Linked DNA regions of Homo sapiens: region 2 is linked to region 1. Evidence: fine-mapped expression QTL. Tissue or cell type: fibroblasts. Region 1 holds a variant in brackets; the other region holds the start of a gene. All regions are shown on one strand. Distances are from middle to middle.

What was found. PIP is the estimated chance that this variant, and not a neighbour inherited with it, causes the effect.
Region 2: it holds the start of CDK18, and the variant in region 1 is fine-mapped to the expression of CDK18 in fibroblasts (GTEx, PIP above 0.99).

The regions. Positions count from the first base shown.
Region 1 is chr1:205,524,163-205,531,297 of GRCh38, forward strand. It overlaps CDK18 (cyclin dependent kinase 18), which reads left to right. Exons shown (of 16, transcript NM_212502.3): 4 at 70-195; 5 at 977-1,033; 6 at 1,903-2,017; 7 at 2,205-2,299; 8 at 2,613-2,675; 9 at 3,632-3,755; 10 at 3,886-4,006; 11 at 4,837-4,934; 12 at 5,162-5,267; 13 at 5,359-5,401; 14 at 6,097-6,187; 15 at 6,466-6,543. Among named protein-coding and RNA genes, the nearest start is that of CDK18, 23 kb to the left of the region's middle. RefSeq lists a silencer at 4,971-5,090. The variant C/G (reference allele first, on the strand shown) is at 5,053.
Region 2 is chr1:205,499,114-205,510,089 of GRCh38, forward strand. It overlaps CDK18 (cyclin dependent kinase 18), which reads left to right and starts at 5,556. Exons shown (of 16, transcript NM_212502.3): 1 at 5,556-5,683. RefSeq lists an enhancer at 7,480-8,133.

The DNA.
Region 1 (7,135 bases):
CTGGAGCCCCACAGCCCTAGCTACCCTGAAACCAACAGTGGTGTCCCCATCTCATCCCTGTCACCACAGGACGTCAGCAAGAGGCTCTCTCTGCCCATGGATATCCGCCTGCCCCAGGAATTCCTACAGAAGCTACAGATGGAGAGCCCAGATCTGCCCAAGCCGCTCAGCCGCATGTCCCGCCGGGCCTCCCTGGTGAGTCCCAAGAGGGTCAGAGGACACAAGGTGGGGTGATATGCCCTCCCCAGCATGGGCATATCAGTCCCAGCTGAGGCCTAGATGGGATTTCGAGGAAGATTCCTGGGCCTCTGGTGCCACCTGCTGGCTTGAGTGCATTCAACTAGCTCGTCCTCCTACATCAACATCCATTTCCTAGATGGGTCTCACTTGGGCTGGAATGGGACTCTAAGCCCACAGTGGGTCCCACGGTCTCCACATGGTTAAGATCAATAGGCCAGCTGGCATGTGCCTTCCAGTCCTAACTGCCTATCAGAGCTGTTTGGGACATCTTACAAAACACAGACTCTACCTCCAGACACCTATAGAATCAGCCTCTCCGGCTAGGGGGTCCAGGAATCCGTCTTGTTAAGGGTTGGATACACCTGAGCTAGAAGTGCGCTGATGAGAGACACAGTCAGAGAGGTGGATTCTGAACTGGACACTCAAGGTACAATGGGAAAAAAGGCAGCACTCACTCTGGAGGAGCTCGTGGTCTCAGTCGGAGACACAGGTAGTCAAGATGTGCAACAATCCCAGGTGCCACAGCTCTGGGCTCTACACTCTTGGCTGTCCTGGGAGGAAGAAACTCACACTTTCACGAGCTCTGTCCTTTATCACAGGGATAAAGGGAAAAGGAGCCCCTTCCACCATGGAGTCTCATCCCTTCCCTCCCAGAGGCTGGAGTTGGGGGAGGCGTCATGTCTGTGGAGCTGCTAAGGGCTTCAAGCTCACGGCATTCTATGTCTCTCCCTCTCAGTCAGACATTGGCTTTGGGAAACTGGAAACATACGTGAAACTGGACAAACTGGGAGAGGTAAGACGCTGGGTTTGGTCTTCTCCGAATAGCCAGGCAGGATGGCTTGGAGGAGGGGCAGACCTCCCTAGTCGGCCCTCTCTGGTCGGCCCTCTCTGGTTGGCCCTCTCCTGGCCCCTGCCCCATAGAGGTGCACAGTCTTGGCTGTGCGCTCTGGCCCAGGCTTTGGCAGGGATTGAAGTGAGCTCAGATCCTGAAGGAGGGCGTGAGGATAGAGTAGCCATGGCCCTGGGCAGAATCCAGTCTTTTTTTTTTCTGCAAGTCCTTCTTGCCTGGGTTCAAAACCTAGCTCCACCATTTACTAGCTCTGTGACCTTTGGCAAGTTACATGACCTCTCTGTGTGCCTCAGTTTCTTCCTCTGTCCAATGAGACAGTAATTGTCCTATCACATAGGGTTATTGTGAGGATTGGGCAGGTTACTGTAATCAGCTTATGTACGGCACACAGACAATGCCTGGCACATAGGAAGTGCTGTGTCACTTAGCTATTTTTGTTGTCACTGTGCAGAGGCCTGGGGTGGGTGAAGGTTTATAGAGAGAGGGAACACACAGCCCTTTCCCTCCAGGAGCCCAAAGAGGTGACCTCTGTGTAAACATCAGCATCGTATAAGGAAGAAAAAACCTGGTGTTATCATAGACGGGCACGCGGCGTGCTGGGGCTTAGAGGAAGGACGGATTCACTCCGACTGGGGAGTCATTAGGGATGCTTCCTGGAGGAAGTAGGCTTTGGAGGAAACAGCATGTCAGTAAAGGGAGGAAGGGCACTCAGGCCCCAGTCGTAGCCCAGGCAGAGGCACAAATGGGGAGGCACTGGACAGAGGCCAGCAGCACCTGAATGCGCCTGGGGCCGCTGTGGCCCTCCATCCCAGGGCACCTATGCCACAGTCTTCAAAGGGCGCAGCAAACTGACGGAGAACCTTGTGGCCCTGAAAGAGATCCGGCTGGAGCACGAGGAGGGAGCGCCCTGCACTGCCATCCGAGAGGGTACAGCATCCTAGGCTCCCACGCTCCCCTGGGGGCTTCAGGAGGAGGGGTTCACCAGCCTGCACCCTTGTGGGAGCTGGGGGTAGAGGATCATTGCTGGAATGGGACTCCTGGCGCTGACCCCAAGAAAAGAGGGTATGGGGACACATGGGGTCCTAGGGACCCAGGTGGATCTGTCTCCTCACAGTGTCTCTGCTGAAGAACCTGAAGCACGCCAATATTGTGACCCTGCATGACCTCATCCACACAGATCGGTCCCTCACCCTGGTGTTTGAGTACCTGGTGAGAGTCCGGCTGGGGCTGGCCGCCTCTCCCTCTTGTGGTGGAAACGGGGTGTGGGTAGGGGAGTGGGAAGCTGAGGGAGTGGGAGTAGTGGGATGAGGGCGACCCAGGCCTTGTTCTGGAATCAGATTTTCAGATGCTCCCGTGCAGGAGTGGGCCAAGAGCTCAGGCTTACGGGTGGCTCGAGCCAGGGACCTGTCCCACTAGTGGGCGTGGGCCCTTCCCAGGGAGGGGCTTCCTCTCCTCAGCCTGTGTCTGGGCTTCTGGCCAGGGGTCAGCGTGGGGCAGGACTGAGCCACGCTCTGTGTTCCAGGACAGTGACCTGAAGCAGTATCTGGACCACTGTGGGAACCTCATGAGCATGCACAACGTCAAGGTGAGGCCTCGGGGGCAGGGTCCCCCCATCTTGGCAGCCACCTGTCCAGAAGCCCAGTGTGGGGACCCACTCTCACCACCAGGGATCCGGCTGCTGAGGTGGCTCAGACCTTCCCACGTAGGAAAGAGGGAGAGGGCAATGCCATCAACGAGTCCAGGAACTGGGTTGAGCGCTTTACCCCAAGAACAGACACACACTGTCTGCCACTGTCTAGCTGTTGGTATAAAACCCACTCTCAACTCTGAACATCAGTTTCCCAGTCTGTCAAATGGGAGTGTGAGCTACCTGCCAAAATGCAGGGAGGCTTCTGGGGAAGCTCGGGGTTATGAATGACCTCTCCTGGTGTTTGTTAAAGAATCAAGGCTGGGCATGGTGGCCCACGCCTGTAATCCCAGCACTGGGAGGCCAAGGCAGGAAGATGGCTTGAGCCCAGGAGTTTGAGACCAGCCTGGGCAACATGGCAAGACCTCATCTCTACTAAAAATTGAAAAATTAGCCGGGCACAGTAGCGTGCACCCATAGTCCCAGCTGCTTGAGAGGCTGAGGCAGGAGGGCCACTTGAGCCCGGGAGGTTGAGGCTGCAGTGAGCCATGATCACACCACTGCACTCCAGCCTGGGTGACAGAGTAAAACCCTGACTCTAAAAGAAAAAAAAAAAAAAAAGGGATCAAGCACATATGTCTCCACATAGGCGGGCATCCTGACCCCCGTGCTCCTGACTGAGACTTCGCTGGCCTCCCCCACACTCACTGCGTCCTCTGCACCCCTGCTGTCCTCCCCTCTGGATGGGATTCCCTGGTGTGGGTGGGGTCCAGGATGGGGGCTGCAGGGTGTGCAGGAGAATGAGGGGCTTGTGCTGACCTCACTGCCAAGCCCCTGCCCCCATCCTGGTCCCAGCCTTGGAGCAGAGGCTCAGGGCCACCTTCCACCCCACATTTCTCTTCCCCCTCCCCCAGATTTTCATGTTCCAGCTGCTCCGGGGCCTCGCCTACTGTCACCACCGCAAGATCCTGCACCGGGACCTGAAGCCCCAGAACCTGCTCATCAACGAGAGGGGGGAGCTGAAGCTGGCCGACTTTGGTGAGGCTGGGGCTAGGGTGGGGGTCTGACGCTACTGGGGTGCCTCAGGGTGTGGGTGCAGTGGGGGAGGGCATAGCAGTCAACCCCACAGCACCTGTGGACAGAGGTCCAGTGACATGTCTGCCCCCAGGACTGGCCAGGGCCAAGTCAGTGCCCACAAAGACTTACTCCAATGAGGTGGTGACCCTGTGGTACAGGCCCCCCGATGTGCTGCTGGGATCCACAGAGTACTCCACCCCCATTGATATGTGGTGAGTGAGCACTGTGGGGACCGAGGAGGGGAGGACAGGCCTGGCCACACCTCCAGACTCTCCTTTGCTTCCCCAAGGGCCTCGGGGAAGAACTGCCTAACTTCCTTTGCCTAAAAGCCTTGTGACATCCTGCTGAAATGGATGTTAAAAAATTAGGTCTGAAATATAATAGGTTAGGGTTTCCCTGGCTTAAATAGACCCCCAAGCCTGTGCATTTGAAATCCTCCCCCAGAGGCCTGTGGGGGGTTACCAGAGACCCAGAGGGTCCAGGAGGGCCCCTATAGTAAATACGATGAATCTTCCCCAAGCATCAGTCCCAGTGAAAATTTTGAAAGAGAAGTACTATTTTTATGTTAAAATGAACAAGTGTATGATTTGGTGTAAAATGAAAAATCAGCCCAAATTGCAAGCCAAGCCGCCGGTGGTTATGAATGGCTGCTGTGACTCCGCCCCAAGGTTCCCCAGGAGAATGGATTTATGTACTTCTCTTCCAGTGGGGCACACAGTGGAGAGAGTTTGAGACAACACTGCTGAGAGAATTGCCACATGGGCGCTGGCTGCACAGACCCAAACCTCACAGAGTGAAAGGGGACTTTCCTCACAGAGTGAAAGTCGCAGCTTTCCCGAGCCCAGGGAAGCCCCCCAGAGAGGGGCTGTAGTGGGGGCTGGGCAGTTCTAGGAGCCTCCACTGCCCTGGGCCACCCCTCCGCCGCCAGAGCCACGATCCCTGCAGCCGCCTGTGGCAGGTCGTCATTGGTGCCCTGGTGGAGCAGCCCTAGGAAGGGCGGCCGCCCCTGCCTGATGCCGACCCTACCCCTTGCTCCTCGCAGGGGCGTGGGCTGCATCCACTACGAGATGGCCACAGGGAGGCCCCTCTTCCCGGGCTCCACAGTCAAGGAGGAGCTGCACCTCATCTTTCGCCTCCTCGGTCAGTCTCCCGCTGCTCCGTCCCTCTCACCACCAGGGGGCGCCGGAACTCCTCCAGCCCAGGCGCGGAGCGGGACGGGGAGGAGCGGCTCGGCCGCCTCTCTCCCGGGCGGGGACCC[C/G]CTGTGGCCTCGGCCATCTTTGCTCCCACCTCATACATTGCATCCCTTTCAAGTCGGCCTTGGCCCTGGGCCTCACGCAGGCCCTCCCCACCCTCTCTCGTCTCCCCAGGGACCCCCACAGAAGAGACGTGGCCCGGCGTGACCGCCTTCTCTGAGTTCCGCACCTACAGCTTCCCCTGCTACCTCCCGCAGCCGCTCATCAACCACGCGCCCAGGTAGCCCCTGCGCCCGCCGCCCCTCCTGCTGCGGCCCTGGCTCTCCCATCCCCAATCAGGCACAGCCTGTGTCCGCGCCTTCTCCTTGCAGGTTGGATACGGATGGCATCCACCTCCTGAGCAGCCTGCTCCTGGTGAGTGTCCTCCCGGCGGGGCCCAGGGAGAGGCAGCCAAAGAGCCAGGTCCCTGTGCCCCATGCCGGGCCTACGCCCCAACTTCTGTGGCTCGTGTGCTTACACGTCTTTGAAACATCTCCCCTGTACTCTCCACCCCCAAGGCCAAGGGGTGGCCTCCATACACATCCTCTGGAGTCTGTGCACTGCGAGCCCAAACCCGTTACTTAGCTGTGTAGCTCTGGGCAAGTTACAGAGCTCCTCCATGCCTCAGTTTCCTCAGCTGCAAAGTGGGATTAATACCTATTTTATAAGATGGCCGTGAGGATACATTGAGATGACGGGACACACTTAGTGTGGTGCCTGTCTTGTAAGGCACACGATGAAGGGTTGTTATCGGCACTACGCTTCCTGTTACGGATGTTCTCCATCTGATCATGGTTGGTTTGCATCTGTATTTCTATCCCAAGAGAAGGTCACTCTCCTGAAGTTTCATTTCTGGTTTTTCCTGGTGGCTGGAGACCGAGGAGCCTTCCCCTGAGTCTTGAGATGGCCTGAGGTTGGGTTTGTGGTAGGGGCTGGAGGCTGACCTGGGGCTTCTCCTGTTAGCCTCAAGCCTCACCCACCTTGGTGCTCTAACCAGCACTGGAGTCCTGCTGCCCAGAGGGTTTGCAGCCCCCCAGCCGGGCCCAATAGCCCCACCCTGTGCCTTTCAGTATGAATCCAAGAGTCGCATGTCAGCAGAGGCTGCCCTGAGTCACTCCTACTTCCGGTCTCTGGGAGAGCGTGTGCACCAGCTTGAAGACAGTGAGTACTGGGGGTCCGGGAGCAGGGCCACCCAGAACCAAGGAAAGGGGTTGGTGAGTGTGGGCAGAAGAACCAGAACAAAGAGGCCAGAGGCCCCAGCCCCAGCAGAGCAGCCCCGGGCACCTTGCCTCCCCTGCTGGGGTTCTCATTCCAAATTGAGGGGGCAAACAGTGGAAATGAGACGCTGCCTCGAGGGCTCAGTTGGTCCTTCTGGGCCAGTCCTTACTGGAGGCCAGCTCCACGCAGCCCTCTCCAGACTATGCACTTCTCTCCCCCAGCTGCCTCCATCTTCTCCCTGAAGGAGATCCAGCTCCAGAAGGACCCAGGCTACCGAGGCTTGGCCTTCCAGCAGCCAGGTAGGGGCTTGTGCTCTCCTGGACCCCTCCCCTTGTTAGTGGAAGCCAGAGCAGGCGACCCCTCCCCAGTGGGGACTCCCATGGTCCCCCCACCACTGGCTTCCCTTTGGACTCTTTGGGGAGCAGAGAAGGGGTTGGTTTCTCCTGCCTAGACTTCCTCGTCCAGCTCTTCCCTCCTCAACCCTCCACCCCAGACAGGACATTGCATTTGACAGTAGCCCTGGCAAAGAGGCATGCTGTCTCTGGTGCATTCTCTCTGCAAACCCTGAGCTCTCTAATCAGATTCCATCCTGGGAGAACGGTACTTTGTTCCTAGAACAGTCAATGGCCTTGGACATTGACAAATGCTTTCCATGCATCGTCTTCTTTAATCCTTAAAATACCCCTTGAAGCTAGTACTATTAATATTCCCCATTTCATAGTCAATGAAACTGAGGCTCTGGGAGGTTAAGTCACAAGTTCATGCAGCTAGTAAGTAGCAGAGATGGGATTTGACACCAGGTCAGACCGGCTCCTGTTTGCATGCCCTTGCTTGCTCTGTCAGAGCAGCTCTGGGGGACAGCGACTGTCCCTGCTGACCTGGGGTACCCGT
Region 2 (10,976 bases), 23 kb before region 1:
CAGATTTCATCAGATTCTGAAAGAGGGGTTGGGGACTCAAAGGCCTCCTGTTGGGGAGCTACTGGAAGCAACTGGGCAGAGGAGGAGCCACTGGCAGATTGGCCAGTGGCTAAGGTTAAGGCCTCTCTGGCATCTGTCTGAAGGAGGGGTGTGGGGCCTGGAAGCTAAAGGCCAGTGGGCCAGTGGGGCCTGCGGGTTCAAACCATGGCCTTCTTCCTTGGCCCTGAGCAAGGTCTTTCCCGGTCAGCCACCTCCAGAGCACTTGTCTCCAGGCCCATCCAACAGGCCTCTGGAGCATTTCTAAAAGTCTTCACCAAGATGTTCAACTGGCTCCTCAAGGGCTACCTGGCTACAGCTGAAATCAGCACCTGTGCTTGGCCCATGGCAGATATTGAGTAACTACTTTCAAACTGAACTAAGATCCAACTGTCCAATGAACTCATGAGCTGGGTTTTAGGGTTTGGTTTTAGGTCTTCCTGGGGATCAATCAACTCTCTTGGTCCAAAAGTCTCAAAATTCTTAAGGTTTCCTGAAAAGAAAATCTACGGTTCCTATCCCTATCTATTAGTTGAGAAATAATTTCATTACATTTCACTATAATCCAAGTAGGAGTCTTTGACCCCATTCTCTAGGTGAGCAAACAGAGACCCAGGGGTAAAGAATGGGCTTAGAAAGCCCAGGTAAACCAGCTGTCTCTCCTCTCCCACCCTGCATACGGGTCCTCTCAGTGGCCCACCCCAGCCAGTGTGGCCTGCAGCCTCACCCCAAAGACTCTTCTAGTCTTGTTCCTAAGGACCACTTTCCCATTTACACCAGCTTTGTGTGGTGATTCTGTTGTCATGGCAATGCATCAACCTGAAGGGGGTGGGGTGTGTGTGTGTGTGTGTGTGTGTGTAAGTTTGGAAGGCACCGCTGGATGTAGTGGTGGGGTTCTAATTGGTTTGATAGTTGCTAGGGTCAACTGGTCTGTGATTGGCTGACTCTATTTATGGGTCCACCCTGTCCTAGAACCCTCTGGGGATGCAGCTGTTGCCTCATCTGAAGTCTAGAATGGTGTGTGTGTGTGCGTGCATGTGCATGCACATGTGTAAACACATGCATAAATGCACACATGCCTGTACTTTCACCACAAATAGCGAAGGGAGGATATGACACTTGGTGAAGTGATAAAGCAGAAAGTCCCAGGCTCTCTGCTGGAATCACACTGCTACAGGTAAATGATATTTTTCTCCTAATCATCCCCACTTCTCATAAATCACTGGAAAACAATGGCCTAGGTTTAGCCAGAGGAGGAGTAAGAATTGGCTCAGTCTAGCCAAGTCCTGCTGTCCCAATGACTCACAGACCTCTAACTAGCTAGGCCATAATGGGTCAGTCCATCTTCAGGTCTCTGCTGCCAATCTCCCTCCTGCCTGCCAAGGGCAGGCTGTTGAGGTGAGTTTCTCTGTTCTCACTTAGCTTCTCATTTCTCATGTCTTTACTTGATTCCTGGAACCCTAAAAAGGGCCCTCTGGACAAACACTAATGATCTCATACACATGCAGGTCGTTCTACAGTGTGCAAAGCACTTTCACAGTCACCTTTGCATTTAGTTCTCCCATCCTGAAAGATAGGTATTCACACTATTCCCCTTTTGCTATAGAGGAAAACAGAGGCCCAGAGAAACAAAGTGATTTCTGCACCTTAGGGGCGGAGTCAAGTCTCCGGCCTCCCAAATGTCCCTGCAGTGCTTTCAGAGACTGTGCCTGCTCGGATATAGGGCCAGAGGGGAAGGGAGCCCCTGACAATGTGCAGAAAAGAGATTCTCTGTTGGCTGAACTCTCCCTGTCTGGATGCTGTGCCTCCCAGGGGAAAGTGGGGCGGGCTTGAACTTTGGTTTTTCAGATGCTATTCAAATGCACTGCCCACACAGTCTGCGAGGGAGAGCTGTTTCCAGCTTCCCTGCTCAGCCCTCAGGCACCCAGGGACGCCTGTCCTATCTGCAGAGCAGTGGCATGTCACTGGCAGCGAGGAGGAGACAGGAGCAGAGTGGGCAGTGGGCTGAGCTGCTGCTGGGGCCACCATTGTCATGCTGCTCAGGCCTGCCAGCATTACACTGCTACATGGCTAGGGTGACCAGGGCCTCCCGGGGATGCCACAGATCCATTAGACTAGCAGAGGGGAAGGGGGCTGCAGGACCCACAGGGGATGGGCCCCAGGGGCTGGGGTGCCAGGGAAACCCCCAGCTGAGGGTCTGTTGTCTGTCCCTCTGCAAGGAGGGAGTTAATGGGCTGCAGAAAAGAGAAACAGCATTGATTGGGTGCCAAGTTTACATCCTATTGAAACCTCACAACAGCCCCATGAGAGAGGGACTATTACCATCTCCATGTTATGGACAGGAAAGGAAGTCAGATATGTCAGTAACTGCCCAAGGTCACACAGTTTACATGGCTTTAAAGCTCAAAGTATTGCTTGGTAAGGCAGCAGGGAAGGAGCCCCTCCTTAGTGGAAGTCCTAGGTAGTGCTGCTTCTACTGTGTTTGGCTTATTGCAAGATGCACAGAAAGAAAGTTGGCATCGGAGGGCAGGGGACACCAAGGGGTTCAGAGGGAATTTTTGAAATGGTACAGATGAGAAGCAGAAAAATTAGGCTGACCCAAAGAGCACACATACACAGGCCACTGATGTGTATGACTGGGTATCATGGACTCCCTATCCAGCTAGTAAGCCCTGCCCAGGGTCACTCTTATCTGGTTCCCCCCTCCCACCTCCCATCTGCACTTGCCCTTTCCTGGGGTGGCCAAAGCTTGTTGTGCCATTCTCTGGGCTCCATATAGATGCCCACCTGCAGTTCATCCTCTTCCTTCAACCCTGAGAACCAAGACGATGCTTCAAAACTGAAGCTTTCAGAGATTCTGAAGCAATCCCATGTGGTGGTGGTGGGGCAGGGGGTGATGTGACAGGCTCTGAGCAGGTGGCTGGCCCTACATCATTTCAGCTGTCATCTCTCCTCTGTGGAGCTGTCCCAAATTCTCTTGGGCAGAGTTAAGGGCTTCTTCCTCTGCTCAGCCCATATTGCCTTGGTAGGTGACTGCCTCTGCATATCTTTCTCCACCTGAACAGTGAACTACATGAGAATAGGAACTGAGACTTAAAATCATCTATCCAATGCAAGGATCCAGTATAGTCCTTGTCACATAGCAGGTGTTCAATAAATGTTTGTTGAATGCATGAATGATGGTAATTATATTTACTATCTATTGAGTTCTCCATTATGAGCCAAGTCCTATGCCAGGCCCTTAGCATACATTACCCTAATATGTACAACAACCATACAAGATTGATTTTAGCAACTTTGTTCTACAGATGGCCTCAGAAAGCTTAGTTCGCTTGCCCAAGTTCACAGAGCAATCTAAGGAGGTGCTGGGAATCAAGGCTCACTTAAGAAGCTCCAAGGTCCCACTCAGCCTATCACATCAGTGCTTCTAATCTTGACACTGTTGGCTCCCTTATCTTCTAGAATCCAATAGTCACAAGGCTCCATGACCCTGTCTCCTACCTATCTCTCAAATCAGTTCCCTCCTCTCCTCCCTGCTGCCGCTGTGTGGTCTAAGCTCATTCTCATTTTCCACTAGGATCAGCCTCCACGTTGGGGGTCTTCAGGACCCAGCACCTGCCTGCCTCTACAGTGTCACCTCCACCCCAGACTTTAAGTTCTGACCTCATGGAACTGTGGGTCCATATTCTGTCACCCCTGCACTCTGCACAAGGGATTACCCCTCCTGGAAAAAACAGGGAAAATCCTTCCTCCTCTCTCTTGTCCCCTCATCCTGTAACCCTCACCTCAAGCAGAATAGCTCCTCCCAGGCATCCGTAACACTAAGCCTCCTCCTATAGCATCCTAACTGTTTGCTTCCCTGCCGCATTACACCAAGAGCTTCTTGAAGGCAGGGACTGGGTTATACTCATCTTATGTGCCCAGAGCCCTGGCTATCATTTGGCACATAAGAGATGTTGAGAAAGTGTTTGTGGAGACCTCTTGACTTCACCCCCCTAGTTCCTTGAAATTCTACCCTTTGGCCCCACTCTCTCTAATCCGCCAGTAAACAGTTCCTTGGCCATAGTCCTTCTCCCTTTCCCTCCCTGCCCCTTCCAAACCTCTTTATGGCCTCCTGCTCCCCAGGCTTCTCACCATCCACTGGACTACAGAGCCAGGAGGTTGCTGCACACCTAAAGGCTCTGGATCCATGCACCCCGACAACACTTGGCAGTTTCATTTTTAGGAAGTGCTGTGCCCAGGAAATCTGCATGCCTTGGCAGAGAAAGCGAGGTAAAAAAAAAAAAAAGAGTTGGGAGGCCCTCTGTGAGATGTCAACTACCCACAGGTCACTTTCATGCATGGGCCCAGTGTCTTCCTTCATTCTCCTGTCTCCAGCTGACAGTGGGACCTCAGGCCCATGTCTTCCAGAAGGAAACTGTTCTATTCTCAACAACTCACAGTCCCCAGGGAAAGGGTTCAGGTAGAAGCACATGTACACTGTGGAGCACCCCCTCCTAAGGAGACTTTCCCTGTGGGAGACCCCAGACTGCAGCAGCCAAGCCCTCTGGTAGGGCAGGGGACACAGACTGCCTTGATGAGGTGCCATAGAGCCAAGGCACACCTCCTCTCCTCACAGCCCTCAGGAGGAAGCAGAGATGAGAGGGGCCTGGCGGTGGGGCACTGTGCCCTTCACCCCCATCCCCAGATTTTTGTTTTGTTTTTTTTTTTGATCCTTGAAGTCAGATGATGTGGGTGCAATGGCCATTGGCCTGAGTTCTAATCATGGCTCGCCATGAACTCTTGTGGCACTTTAGGCCAGTTCAATTGCTTTGCTGGGCCTCAGTTTCCCCTTCTGTAAAATGAGAGTGCCACTAGCTGAACTAGCCATTCTGTAACCCTTCTTGGATGATTCTCAAATATCCTGTGGAGTTTAATTCCAAAAGGACAAGTTGAATTATCCTTCGGGGAGGGAAATGTGAATGATGGCTGGTAACAAGGGCTTCATTCAGGTCCTGGAGAGGTGGGAACTTTGTCCGGAAAGGTAAGTGACAAGTCCCACTGGATAGGGTAGAAGGGGAGCCCGAGGGCTACTATTGTCAAGAAAATGACCACCAAAATCTGTCCATGCACATTCGTTCCTAGGGCGCCAGGTACAGGGAGGTACCTAGGAGAGGTAGGAGCACCGCTTTTAGAGACAGGCAGGCACTCTCAGTGTACCCCTGGCGCCTTGGTGTCCTGGGGTGATCCAGTCCAGAAGGCCTCATCCCCTAGCCAAGGCTCTCAGGGCCGGTTTTAGAAACGAAACAGGAAGAGGCACTTGGACCCTGGTTCCCAGAGTGGGAGAAAGGGGTGGGCACCCGGGCAGAGGGAGCCCTGGGGATTGGTAGCGGCTGTGGGCAGGGCGGGAGGGCCGGGGGCGGAGTCAACTTGTACATGTGAAAAACTCTGGCGGGGGCCGGGCATTTTCCTTCCTCCTCCTCCTCCTCCTCCTCCTCCCTCCTCTTCCCCACCTTCCTCCACTCCCTCCCTTCCCCTCCCCTTCTACCTCCTCCTCGGCCAGCTCAGGTTGCAGCTTCTCTGGGGAACTGCTCACCTTTCCGGAGCAGGGGAAGCTGCCCCGTGCCCGGGAGGGAGCGGGCGCACCGCGGCCCCCAGGACACGCGCTGTGAGTCCCGCGGGCGGTGCGCCTGGGAGGAAGGGGGAGGTCGGAGGAGCGGGCACCGCGGCGCCGGGTATAAGGAGCAAAGGTAAGCGGAACGGCTCTTAAAGGCGCAGTTTTGCTTTTGCCCTGAGGCGAGAGGTTGGAGGGAAATACCGGAGCGGCGAGGGGAGAGCAGAGATCACGAGGCGTGATCTGTGTGATACTGTGTTGTGTGTTGAGGGGTGGGGGGTGCCCTCGAAAGGCCACTCGTAAGTTCCAGGTGCTTGAGAGGGAGGGTTATTTTGCAATCTCAGACCCCGCGCCCCCTTAGGGAGTCTCCATCTGGGATCACTTTGGCCCCTGGGCTCCCGTCTGAACCCTACAAAGCAAAGTTTTCCACCCAGTCCGGAACCAGGCGCTTTCTAAGCTCCCTTCATTCTGGGAAGGGCAAGGGTCAGGAGTCTCCAGGGACCAAAGGACCCGAGAGTGTGGGGCCACATCGCTGCCTTGAAGGGCTTCCTGGGCTCTGGTGAACTTTCCAGAGCGGCAGGCAGGGGGTGGGAGGCCGGAGCCCTGGGAAGAACGTGGAAGGACACGTGAAGCCCTGCAGGTCCCAGTTCTGGGGGAGGCAGGGGTCTGGGGAATGCTGCTGCTTCTCTCTTTCCACCCCGGAAGACCAAAGGGGCAGTGCCCCCCTCCACCCCTCATCAACAGGCGACAGAGGGTTAATGCAGCAGAGGGAAAGGAGGCTGGGTGGGGCCGGGGGGAGTGGGCGGTGACCTGTTGGGCTAAGGAGATGTGCCTTGAGGATTCTGCTGTAGTTGAGGGACACCATCAGGAATCTGAAATCCAAAATCGGGTCTGGACTGGAGGCCTCTGTTTTCGCCCTGTGGGGGGCGGGGATTCCCTGAAGGTGTCTGCAGACCTTGTGCTGGGTGGGAGTTGGGCTGCAGAAACAGTGAGGGGTTTTCTGTGCTGCAGGGTCAGCACCCTCCTAGGCACCAGCCCTGCCTCTCTTCATTCTCTCTGGGCACCTCCCGGCAGTCGGGGTGGGAGGATTGACACTGTGGGAGTGAGAGGCCCTGGAACCTCTTCCGCGCTATCTGCTACTGTCTCCCCTTCTTCCCCACCCCTAGCCCAGCCCTCGGCAGTTCCCCAGCTGTAGCCTGGGCCCTGTGACTCACTAACACCACCGGCTTGCCCCTCCTGTGTCAGCACCCAGTGAGCTTCGGCATGTTCGCGTGGCATTCCCCACCCGGGCATGGGCATGCAGCACATTCCTGGACACGGGCCTGAGAGGATGCCTGGAGCGCCTGGTGGACTGGCACGTCCTCAGAGATCCCCTGCCTTTAGCCTGGCCTTGGGAGGGGCCTGGGAAAACGGTGCTGAGGGTGCTGAGGGTCGGTGGAGTACAGGGCGACACTGGCTCCAGGTCCGGGTTTGCATCCTGAAGGCGTTCCAGAGAGAGGGTCACCTTGCCACAGCAAAGCTGCTATCTCGGGTTACCCTTTCCCAGCCACCTCTTGTGCAGCTGAGGAGGCTGTGGGGCTGACCCCTCCCCCACCCTTAATCTGGGGTGTACCTGACCATTGGGTTCCCAGGACTCTCCCCACTGGGTCCCCAGGACTCTCCCCATACCCTGCCAGGAGAATGGAAGAAGCTCTCCACGCGTGCCAGAAGAAGTTCTTCCCAAACTTATCGGGGGTGCCAGAGGCAGAGTAGACAAGCCTTAGTGGCCACCATTTGTTGAATATCTACTGTGCGCCAAGCAGTGCGTCACAACTTTATGAAGTAGGTATTATTATCATCCCCATTTTACAGGTGAAGAAACTGAGTCTCTGAGAGACCAACTTTTCCAAGGTCACACAGAGGTGGGATCCAGCCCACTTCCGTCTGACCCCAAGCCCCTGCTGTTAACCCCTGCCCCATTGTGGGGAGGTTCCGGCCCACTCTGGAGTTCTCTGGTCTGCGTCAGTCCTCAGGAGAAGAAAGAATGGGGGTGATGCTCCAAATATTGAGGCTCCCATCTGTCTGTCCTGCACTAGGCAGAGCCAGGCTTCTCCATGGGGCACAGGAGAGAGGGCACCAGATCTGAGGAGCAAATAGGTTCTTGGTCTGAGATCTCGTGGGATCAGGTTGCCAGCCCTGCAAACCCCCGCTCAGGTCTAGAGGACATGGAGCTGCCTTTCAGGGTGCATTTGCTTCCTCTACAGACTCGGACTCTGTCCTCTGCCTACTTGGGCCGTCCCGCACTCGGGAATGCGTCCTACACTGTAGGGCAGAGCCCGGCTTGACTCTTCCCGGTTCCTACCCTAACCAAGCCTCTACTTTCTGGGATCACCCTGTTGGGACTTTTGTCCAGCATCTCCATCTACCTGTCCTCTGATTCCTTCTGTTCTTCTCTAACTGAGCTTGAGAACTAAAGGGGAGGGCAAACTTCTGGCCTTGGTGGAATCCAGCTCCAGCATATAGTAGCTATGTGACCTTCCCCTCACTAGCACACTCGTGAATTTCTCCCAGCATCCGTTCCCTCATCTGTAAAATGAGGATCATAATAGAGGGCTGTTATAAGATTTAGGCTGGGTGCGGTGGCTCACGCCTGTAATCCCAGCACTTTGGGAGGCCGAGGTGGACGGATCACGAGGTCAGGAGATCGAGACCATCCTGGCTAACATGGTGAAACCCCATCTCTACTGAAAAAAAAAAAAAAGCACAAAATTAGTCAGGCGTGGTGGCAGGTGCCTGTAGCTACTCGGGAGGCTGAGGCAGGAGAATGGCGTGAACCCGGGAGGCGGAGGTTGTAGTGAGCCGAGATTGCACCGCTGTACTCCAGCCTGGGCGACAGAGCGAGACTCCGTCTCAAAAAAAAAAAAAAAAAAAAAAAAAAAAAATAATGCACAGTGCCTGGCATGTAGCAGAGACTAAATAACTGGTAGCTATAGTGGTTGGTGGTGCTTGTTTGGAAAGGGAATTTCCTGGTGATTGCACCAGGGCTGGTCTAGAGACCAAGGTAGATTTTCCCAGCCCCATCAGGCCAAGCCCTTAGTTAGACAGAATCTTTACTGCTCTTCCAGGTTAGGGAGGAGGGCTCTGTGTAAGAGAATGGTGGTGGTGGTAGGGGAATGGGTTGGATGGAAATCTTCCAGGAGGGGCCAGGAATCTGTGCTGTGGGGGCCCTACCTTCTGGCAGTTATGAATGAGGCAGGCACTGGGAGCTGGAGAGGCAGCAGTCTCTTGCTCTGAGGGCCCTCTGGCAGCGCCTTCTTTCCCTGAGGTAGGAGGACCCTCCCCTGGTACTTAATTAATTGCAGTCCCTGTTCTGCTCTGTTGTTCAGGGTGAGTGGCTGGCCTGGTTCCAGGCCCACCTGATTAGCCCACCTTTGGCAATAAGTCACATTTCTCTTCCTCGGCTCTGTGTCCCACCATAACCCCTTACGTCCCCTTCCCTGGACTTTTCACCTTTGCCCTCCAGGCATTCCCTGCTGAGTGGGCACTTTCCCACATCCAGGGGGTGGGAGCAGACCAAGGTTAATCTTGTCCTGGCTCCCACAGCTGCTTACACACACACAGCTGCATGCACATGCACACACAGGCTGGGCTCACAACAGCTCAGGCCAAGGGTCTGGGATCCAGGATCACTACAGAGCTGGTAGCTGGGCCTGGCTGGAGCTGGCCAGTGGTTCAGCAGCAAGTCTGGAAGAGGAAAAGCCGTGGGCGCATCTCCGCCAGACCTCCTGTCTGAAAGAGAGCCCATCTGCTCCTAGAATCTCCACAGCTACATCTGCAGAGGAGGAGGGGTAGTGAGGCAAGTGTGAGGTTTGGTTTTAAACTGAAAAGGGAGGTGGGCGGATTGCTTGAGCCCAGGAGGTCGAAACCAGACTGGGCAACATGGCAAGACCCCATCTCTAAAAAAATACAAAAATTAGCCAGGTGTGGTGGCACGCGCCTGTAGTCCCAGCTACTCGGGAGGCTGAGAGGGGAGGATCGCTTGAGCCTAGGAGGTTGAGGCTGCAGTGATCCATGATTGCATCACTGCACTCCAGCCTGGGCAACAGAACAAGAACTTGTCAAAAAAAAAATTGAAAAGGGTCTTAGGCCGGGTGTGGTGGCTCATGCCTGTAATCCCAGCACTTTGGAAGGCCAAGGCGGGTGGATCACTTGAGGCCAGGAGTTTGAGACCAGCCTGGCCAACATGATGAAACCCTGTTTCTCCTAAAAATACAAAAATTAGCTAGGCATGGTGGCGTGTGCCTGTAATCCCAGCTACTCGGGAGGCTGAGGTAGGAGGATCGCTTGAACCCAGGAGGTGGAGGTTGCAGTGAGCCGAGGTCGCACCACTGCACTCCAGCCTGGGCGAGAAACAAAACAAAACAAAACAAAAAACGGGTCTTGAAGCAAAGCTCCCTGACAGCATGAGTAACCCTGAAGAGACTGGACACCTTGCTCTGGGAGACATGGGCCAGAACTTTTGAAAGGACTATGATGAGATCCTCTTTCCTGGAGCTCTTGATAATGGTCCCACCCTCTGAGCCTCCCTACCCCCACCATTAAATAAAAGTCTTCCCTAGAAATGGTGGAGTCGGGATAGACAAGATGACCCAATAATGGCTGGCTGGTGCACTCATCATTATTTATATGTTGAGTGTATGTCTCCTGTCCACCATGGGTGGAGGCAATTTATGGACTTTGGGGTCAGTTCAGATTCTGCCTCTTCCACTCAGTAACTGGTTGCCTTAGGTTAAGTAATTTGCTCACCCAGGTTTCAGTTTCCTCATTTATAAAATAGGAGGATAATACTATTATCTCATGTGATTGCGAGGACTCCAGTGAGATAATGTCCACCTAGTAGCTCTTTGCTTTACCTGATGTCATTATCAAGGGGTGGTGGCAGAGTTAATGGGCTACATTTGGTAGTTCTCAGTGCCTTTGGCCCCACTTGATATTTTTTTCTGAAATCAGGGTCCCTGCAAACATCAGGGATCAGCCCCCAAATTGGGAAGAGAACTCTATTCTTAAAATGTTTCTGGCCAGGCACAGAGGCTCACACCTGTAATCCCAGAACTTTGGGAGGCCGAGGTAGGTGGATCACCTGAGGTCAGGAGTTCAAGACCAGCCTGGCCAACATGGCGAAACCCCATCTCTACTAAAAATACAAAAATTAGCCAGGCATGGTGGCAGGCACCTGTAATCCCAGCTACTCCAGAGGCTGAGGCACGAGAATCGCTTGAACAAGGGAGGCAGAGGTTGCAGTGAGCCAGGATTGTACCACTGCACTCCAGACTGGGTGACAGAGCAAGACTTTGTCTCAAAAAAAAAA